Linked DNA regions of Homo sapiens: region 2 is linked to region 1. Evidence: fine-mapped expression QTL. A gene starts in region 1. The other region holds a variant in brackets. All regions are shown on one strand. Distances are between the middles of the regions.

Region 1 (4,392 bases):
CAACAAGGAAAAATCTGAAGTAAAGACAAAAGCTCTCCTTTGCCTTGGGGAGAGAGTAAGGAGCTAGTAAGGGGCCCCATGATGAAAAGAACCTAAAGCGGGAAACATTGTGTTTTCCTGCTCAGAGGGTAATGCTGGCTCCCTAGGGCTATGTCCGGGGTTCTCCAGCCCCACTCCAGGGCTCTGCTTTCCCGACCTTGCTACCGTGATGCCCCGGCCGGGAGGCAGGCGGTGCTCGGGTGCAGCTTCGGGGCTAATCCGAGGGCTGCGTGTCAAGCCCGCACATTGAGGCCTGCGGAGAACTGAGACCCCAGTCCCCGCAAGCCCAGCCTACGCAGGAGAGCGCTGCCCTCTAGCGACTATAATGGGACATGCAGCGCGGCCGGAGCCCCGCGGGAGCAGCGCCGCTGCAGGTCCTAGCGACTGTAGAAATCAGCCCTTTGCAGAGGGCGCAGAGGGCCTGGAAACCTCTGGGACCTTTTCCCAGGAACTGTTTATGGTTTCCCCCTAGGTCTAGGAGACATAGATGCATAGGTGGATTGGATACATCGATGGTAGCTATAAGGTAAGCAGACAATGGTCACAGATGGAAAGGTGGACGGACGGATGACGGATGGTTAGAAGATGTTTTGAGGGCTTGCTATAGTGCCAGGCACAAGGCTAAGAGATTTCGTCCACTATTTCATTTGATTCTCTCCAGAACCTTATGAATGGCATATTACCTCTGTTCCTATTTTTCAAATAGGGAAACTGAGGCCTCAGGCAATGTAAGCAGCTTGCCGCTTAGCAATCTTTTGCAGAGCCAGGAAGCGGGAAAGCGTGTCTTAATGGACAGTACCAGCCTCCACAGTGTGCCCTCGGCCCCCTCCCGGTGGAGAAGAGGTTCCAAGCCCCGGCGTCCCGGGTAGGGTGTCCCTCATCCCTCCCTCCCCACCACACTCCTGGCGCGCTGACATTACACCCGCCCCGGCACCCCCCTCTCACTGATCCAACACCCCCGGACACCCTGGACAGCGCTCTCAAGGCAGTAGGTCTTCGACTTGGGAGCCCCGGGGAGCTGGTTAAACACGGATCCTCTCCCACAGTGGCTGAAAAGCGCGCAGTCCCGGAACCTGAGGGTTTACCTGCTTCTACGCTTGGCCAAGGGTCTCTAACTGGAAAGGTGAAAATTCTGTCCTGAGATTTTAAGATTCCCAGAAACTTTCAATCGTTCAGTTCCTGTAACCATTAATTGAGCGCCTAAACTGCGCACCTTGACGCTGTTAGATGCTGCAGTAAGGAACTCGGAGTCAAGTGTGGGGGACAGGTTGGTCAATAAATGACGACATTCCGGACGGCTGTGCTTGGTGCCCACGGGGACCCGCGAGGGGGCCCAGGGAGGAGGCGGGAAAGGGGCAGGTTCACCGGCCCGCTGGGTCTCCAGCACATTCCAGAAGTCTAAGCCAGTCCATCTATCCTTCCAAACGCCCCCACCTCGCTTCCCTCCCTGGAGCCCGCATCCCACGGTGCAATTTCAGTGACTTTATGCGGAGAAACTTGATCCTATCTCACTCTCCCCAAACTTCCTAACTGCCTTGGGTTTGTCACCTGGCCGTGTGGGGAGCCACCGAGCGCCCCCTGTGGCCCCCACCCGAGCTCGGCGGGGGGAGCGGCGCGCGGGTGCTGGGGGACCGACCCCTCCCGCGAAGGCGTCGGCGCGGGGCTGGCGTAGGGCCTGCGTCAGCTGCAGCCCGCCGGCGATTGGGGCGCGCGCGCCTCCTTCGGTTTGGGGCTAATTATAAAGTGGCTCCAGCAGCCGTTAAGCCCCGGGACGGCGAGGCAGGCGCTCAGAGCCCCGCAGCCTGGCCCGTGACCCCGCAGAGACGCTGAGGACCGCGACGGTGAGGCCCTACGTCCGCCAGCACACCCGGGCCCGCTTCTCCCCGACGCCCGCCCTCCTCACACTTGCCTTCTTCTCTTCCCTCTAGAGTCGTGTCTGAACCCGGCTTTTCCAATTGGCCTGCTCCATCCGAACAGCGTCAACGTGAGTGAATTTGCCCGAAGCTTGTCTTTGCTGAGCGGGTTTGGGGACGTCTGCCCGCCCTCTTTCCCTTCACATTTCATTGCATGGGTTCCCCAACAGCGTTCCCTGGTTCTTCTTTGTGACCCCAGTCAATGTCCTGCCTCCCCCGGCTCCCGCTCTCTCGCCCCTGGTCTGCGGCGTTCTCTCCGGAATCTTGCCCTGGGCCGCGGACGCCCAGGAAAAGAGCCGGGTGCCCCAGGCAGCCTCGCGTTGGGGGCGACCGCGCCATCCCGGGAACCGCGAGGCGATCTGAGTCGCCTCCACGTCTACCTAAAAGCTGTCGGCCGGGAGGGCGGGGCCCCAGAAAGGAGCATTCCTGCGGGCTTTTGCTCGACGATCCCCTGCTGAGGCTGTCGCGGCGAGGGTCCTGCCGAGGGACCCCGTTCTGCGCCCAGGCAGGCTCGAAGCACGCGTCCCTCTCTCCTCGCAGTCCATGGCGCGGTTCCTGACACTTTGCACTTGGCTGCTGTTGCTCGGCCCCGGGCTCCTGGCGACCGTGCGGGCCGAATGCAGCCAGGATTGCGCGACGTGCAGCTACCGCCTAGTGCGCCCGGCCGACATCAACTTCCTGGTGAGTGTTGCGCGCGGCGAGTGTTGCGCACCTTGTGAGACAGAGTTTCCGCAACAGTACGCGGACTGCCTCCGGCCCACCGCGCGGCGCGTATGGCGGTTCGCACCGGGTCGGAGCCGCAGCGGCGCGAGCCCGTGGTGACCTGGGTGTCTCAGCTGTTCCTGGAACACTGACTGAAGTCCTGCCCTGGCTCTTAGCTTCGGGGATCCGCGACTATCTGGGGACCGGTAAGGGTAGCGGTGTCGCCGCACAAACCAAGTTTGTTTTAACCCTGGGAATTCGGGAACCCCGAGAAGTCCTCTGTTCAGCACCTCGGATAGCACTGGGTTCTCTCCTGGGCTGTCAGAAGGAAGATGGCTGTCACCACAACTCCTAACATATCCCAGCTAAGGGCCCCTCCACACGCAGTCATCTTCCCATCTTTCCCACAAATAATGTAATTTTTTGTTAGTGACATTTCGGTGCCTTTCTTTAGATTTATGTTCCCCAGCTCTCTTAACCTCAGGTCCCTCATTCCCTACCCTCACCTGTAAATAGGAGAGAGCAAAGGGATGGAAAAGGGGTACGGGGAGAGGAAGGCGAAATAACCGTAGACAGGAAAGAGTTCAAACTGTCTCACTAGCCAGTGATGCTGGAATTCAACTTCTGTTTCAACTGCCCTTTGTAATAGTAACTAAAACAACAGTTTAATTTGGCTATGAGAAAGGAACAAGAGAAGTGGCCAGTGTCCAATGGGTGACAACAGTCCAAAGATACACTGCACTACAGGGGGTTGGGGAAAGAAAAAGCTGAGGACAAAATAACTTTCATTCTGATCATGGTTCCCCATGGGCTGTCGAATCACCTCTGGTGCTCTACTGAGTCTGAATCTCCAACCTCGAGACTCAGGTAGCTTCACTTTTACCAGCTCCCCTGACAATTCCTTTGCATTGCTTTTGAAATTTGTTGAAATTTTATGGTGACTTAAAAAGCTCATAGAGAATAATGTATTCATCCAAGCTGCTTTGGGTTCCACCTGGAATTGAGGAAATTTTACCTTATGTAGATGTTTGAAATGGGGAGAAAACCAAGGAACAGTTTCCAAATATCTGTGGTATATATTTCAGGTTAAATGTTTGTTTCTTTGACCTGTGCTAACTTGGCATTAAAGAGAAGACACATAGGAAGGTTGTATATTTAAACTATGAGAAAAATGTTTCATCTTCAATAGGAGAAACAATCCCCTTCACCCATCTTTCTTCTTTCTCCTGTAGTCATGAGCTTTTAACCTATGCCTAAAAATTGAGCCAGTGCTACAAATATAAGGATAGATCTTGTGGATAAAGAATTTTAGACACAGAAGGAGGAAGAAAAATCCAAAACATGCCACATAGAAGACTCCACTTTCTGACCCCATAATTCCCTGTGCCCAGTCACACATATTTTGAGCTTTGCCTGCTCAACATGTCAGGGGCTCAGCCCCCTCCCCTAGCTTTCTCTGCCATCTGAATAAAGGTTATATGGATTCTAGTCTAATTTTTCTAATCACACAGACTGACCCCAAAGTAGTATCATATTTACTTAAATTATGTGAGTTAGCGAATTAATATGACTGACTTTTAATCATGCCTATTCAAATGGGTTTTTTTCATACTTAATCTATTTGATTCACCAAGCTCCCAAAATGCTACTAATCTTCCTTTTGCATTGTTGAGGAACTTGAGCAGAGCTCACTGGGTAGCAGCTAGCTCTTCCCTGGGTATCACCTCAAATCTTGACT
Region 2 (4,392 bases), 26 kb before region 1:
GAATCCATCATTTAGTTCACAGAGGAACAAGCTATAATAATTAAAAATTCATGTCATTCTTCTACCACAGCAGTCTTGATAATACTTAAACATTCGAGTCACTCTTCCACCACAGCTGTCTCTGCACAGAGGCTTCTCCTATCCTTGCTGGCTCCATTGCTTCTTACATATATAAAATGTTTCATTTGCACCACACAAACTACCAAAACTATAGTTTAACTTTTAGAGAGGGCAGAGGTATTTTTTTCAGAGAACCCCAGTCTTAAACTACATTTTCTCACTCGTTTGGCAGTTCAGCTTACTGAGAAACAATCTCATCCGTGCTTGTTCATTATACTTTGTTAAGTATCTGCTGTGCAATAATTGTGGGGGTTTTTGGTGTATGGGAGAAAATCTAACCTTGACAACAGTAGCCCCTCACTCCCTGATTTGCCCCAGCAAGTAGGAAAGCCAACCTGGCTACCAATTAATCTACTGACTCCATAGATATTTACTGAGAACCCACTCTTTCCCAGGCACAAAAAAATAAGTTTAGTATCAAATACTACAACCAAAATACTATGAAGTGAGCGTGAAGTGGAGACCACCATTGGGGTTCAACGGCGGCTTCTCCTATCCTTGCTGGCTCTGGACCTCTCAGGGCTGAGTGGTAGTCTGGTCCATGCAGATGAAGGCAGGGAAGCAGAAGGGAAATGAGGGTTAATAGTGAAGCTAGACATTGACATGTCAGCCCCATGCTAAATGCAGTGTTCATAGCTAAACGCAGATTTTTAGAACTGCAAGGGTCCTTGCTCATTTTATAAATGAGTAAACTGAGTCCAAAGAGATTAAGTCCAAAGAGATTAAGTCCTTTCTCTAGATTTTATGGTCCTTCTAGATCAGTCACTTCATAAAGCTTTTAGAGCCAGCAATAGAATGCAAGGCTCCAAGTAGATTAGCATGTGTCCAGCAAGCCACGTGGACCAGAGGGCAGGAGCTGCTGGAGCCATGCCCCTCCCAGGGCCCCTGCGATCCGGCCTCCATCTGTGCATCCAAACGCCTGGGCAGAAGCCAGTTCTTATTCCCAAAATAAGCTGGAAATCTCAATTTTTTTTAATATTTTATTTTATTTTATTTTTTTGAGATCAAGTCTCACCCTGTCAGCCAGGCTGGAGTGCAGTGGCACCATCTCGGCTCACTGCAACCTCCGCCTCCCAGGTTCAAGCAATTCTCCTGCCCCAGCCTCCCAAGTAGCTGGGATTACAGGCATGCGTCGCCATGCCCAGCTAATTTTTTGTATCTTTAGTAGAGATGGGGTTTCGCCATGTTGGCCAGGCTGGTCTTGAACTCCTGACCTCAGGTGATCTGTCCACCTCGGCCTCCCAAAGTGCTGGGATTACAGGCATGAGCCACTGCGCCAGGCCGAAAATCTCAATTTTTATGGAAGATCTCTTATTCTTAAATGATGGAAGCCAATTCAAAACTTTAAAACATACTATATGAGCCATGTGTGGGCCGAGTTCCAAGCACTGGTCACTATTTCACAATATCTGCTGTAAAGAACTGGGTCTGAGGCCTTATCCTGGCTAGACTTTATGGCTCCTGAATGCAGGAAAAGAAAACAAGTTACGTTCAAAGCTGCTCAATGTTTGAGACATCTGAAATTTATTTTGATGTAAAGCAGAAGTCATAAAACTGATTCATTTGTACCTTTGAAGATTACAAAGAATAAAATTGCCCACCTGGCCCATCCAGAAAGACCATAATTATCAGGGATCTATCATCAGGTCCTGCGGTGGGAAGGAGAGAGGACCAGGCTACACTCAGTGATCCCAATGCACTCGCACCAGAATGCTTCTTCATCCTCCCATATCCCCTCTGCCTCATCCTCCCCACAGCCTTATTCTCCCAGCTCTTTCCTCTCTTCTCTTGGTCACTGAGAAGTAGTCAGAATGGAGATTGATAACTGAGGGCAGTGTAGAAAAAGTCTGGGAGCTTAAGCACGTCCAGGCATAATTCTGCTTATTAACAGAAACAAACATTTACAGAGTCTTTAGTATGTTTCTCACCCTATTGTAAGCACTTTCCATTTTAATCCTTAGAATTCCATGAGTGAGGTACTACGATGATGATCCCTTTGTAGAGGAGGCTTGGAGAGGTTACTACCTTAGCCAAGGCCACAAGTAGCAGAGCTAGGACCAGGGACCAGATGGTTCCAATCCGAAGCCTCAGAGCCCCAAAGCGGAGGGCTCCACCACCACC[C/GCCC]CCCCATTGTCCTGTTCACGCGATTTCATCCTGTTCACTTCTATTCTCACGACACATCACATCATTCAGATTTCTTAACCCAAAACAGAGTAAACATGAAACAAGTAAAAGATCGTGTACATGTGGGAATGTTTTTAAAAAGAAACATTTTAAACTGATATTTAGAGTAGTCTGTCTTGTCTTTTCATTATAATAACAGTAAAGTCTGTCCTGCAGCAATGAATAAGCGGCTTCTGGGAAGGACACAGAGATGAGCTCATTCCTGGGACTTGCACTTTCTTTTTAAGAACTTCAAGAGCGGACTTGGAGGAAAAGACCTCTGCTCTCTAAAATACCACTGCTTGATAGAGAGCAGTGTTTTCCCTGTATTTTAAATGAAAAGGAAGGCTCACATCCATGTGTATATGCATAGTATGGCATGTGTGTGGAATGGTACATATGTGGTGTAGTGGGGGGAGGATGTGTATGTGTGTATGAGTGTGGTGTGTGTGCATGTGTGGCATGTGCATGTGTGGGGTAAGTGTATGTGTGATGTGTATGTGGTGAGTATGTGTGATGTGTGTGTATGGTGTGTGTCCCTTTGTGTATGGTGTGATATGTGTGTGGTTTAGCATGTGTGTGTGTACATGTGTGGTGTGTGCATGTGTGGGCTGTGTGTGTGTGTGGTGTGTATTTGGGGTGTGGTATGTGAGGTGTAGAGGGTATGATATGAGATGTATTTAGGGGAGTGTACATGTATGATGCATGTGTATCTGTATGTGTGAGTTTTTTGTGTGTGTGTGACAGAGTTTCACTCTTGTTGCCCAGGCTGAAGTGCAATGGCACGATCTCAGCTCACTGCAACCTCTGCCTCCCAGGTTCAAGCTATTGTCCTGCCTCAGCCTCCCGAGTAGCTGGGATTACAGGCATGCACCACCATGCCCGGCTAACACTGTATTTTCAGTGGAGATGGGGTTTCTCTATGTTGGTCAGGCTGGTCTCAAACTCCTGACCTCAGGTGATCCACCCACCTCAGCCTCCCAAAGTGCTGGGATTACAGGTGTGAGCCACCACGTGTGGCCTGTATGTGTGACTTTTAAAGTTACACTCAGGACAATCAATTTAGCCACGTGATCTAAGGTCCTGAGATTAAGCCATTAGTCGAGGCCACATCCATTTGTGTGTTTTCTTCCTGCAGACAATCCTTTCCTAAGTACTATCTAATGGTTCGACTGCATGAGAATCATATGGGGGACCTGTCACAGTGCATAACCCTGGGGCCCCTCCAGGTCTCAGCATCAGAGCCCCTGGGCATGGGCTGAAGAATCTGCCCATTTATCTAACAGGTGTCCCAGTCAATGTCAATGCACTCTTGTAGGAAAGCCACTGCTATAAGCTATGGTTATATAGACGAATGTCCCATTCAAGTATTTCAATTGCAGATACTCCAGATAAAAGGTAAAAAATAATTCGGGCATAGTCAATTTTTCTCTTACTTTTCTGGCATTAACTAAATAAGAGGGGGGAAATAATCTTATCCCTTATTCCCATCACACACACAGACATACACACACTCAGATGCACACAAACATTTGCACACATATGCACAGAAAGGCAAGCCCATTTATGTTCTCAGCTTCTAAATTCTTTTTTTTTTTTTTTTTTAATTGAGACAGGGTCTCGCTGTCTCACATAGCCTGGATCTCAGTGGTGTAAACACAGTTCACTGCAGCCCGAACTCCTGGGCTCAAGCAGTCCTCTTGCCTCAGCCTCCCACAATGCCGGGACTACAGGCATGAGCCACCACGCCCGGCCTGAATTCGTTTTTATTTGACAAGCACATGAAGCCTTATCAGACGGAGGCCTCAATCCTTTGGCTGGGGTTTATAAGCAGGTAGCGCTAGACCTTCCCATTCTACATAAGCTGATGGGCACGGTAATAGCTGGGGGTTTTCTCACAAGTCAAAGACAAATTGTCTGTTTTCAAGCGTGTGAAACAGTTAATACGTTTGAGGTCTCTCTCTTGCTTCATAGGCCATCTTGGCTCAGACATTCTACAGACAATTATCATTGATGTTACAAATGAGGACTTTCCAAGTGCAGATGCTTTCGACCAGGCAGCACCTCCAGCAGGCGGTCATTAGAGATCTTGGGCTAACAGGTCTGACCCTC

Direction of the effects. Alleles are on the strand shown, and positions count from the first base shown. SD is a standard deviation of normalised expression in the study named.
For the expression in fibroblasts of the gene that starts at base 1,808 in region 1, allele GCCC in region 2 goes with a lower level than allele C (moderate effect, 0.42 SD a copy in GTEx).

The links. PIP is the estimated chance that this variant, and not a neighbour inherited with it, causes the effect.
Region 2: its variant is fine-mapped to the expression of PENK in fibroblasts (GTEx, PIP above 0.99).

Annotation. Positions count from the first base shown.
Region 1 is chr8:56,444,057-56,448,448 of GRCh38, reverse strand. PENK (proenkephalin) reads left to right here and starts at 1,808. Exons shown (of 4, transcript NM_001135690.3): 1 at 1,808-1,880; 2 at 1,968-2,023; 3 at 2,493-2,633. The coding sequence starts at 2,496. PENK-AS1 (PENK antisense RNA 1) reads right to left here and starts at 2,642. Exons shown (of 4, transcript NR_125813.1): 1 at 1,949-2,642. RefSeq lists an enhancer at 2,146-3,037.
Region 2 is chr8:56,469,878-56,474,269 of GRCh38, reverse strand. The region is part of intron 1 of PENK-AS1 (PENK antisense RNA 1); the gene reads right to left. Among named protein-coding and RNA genes, the nearest start is that of PENK, 25 kb to the right of the region's middle. The variant C/GCCC (reference allele first, on the strand shown) is at 2,242.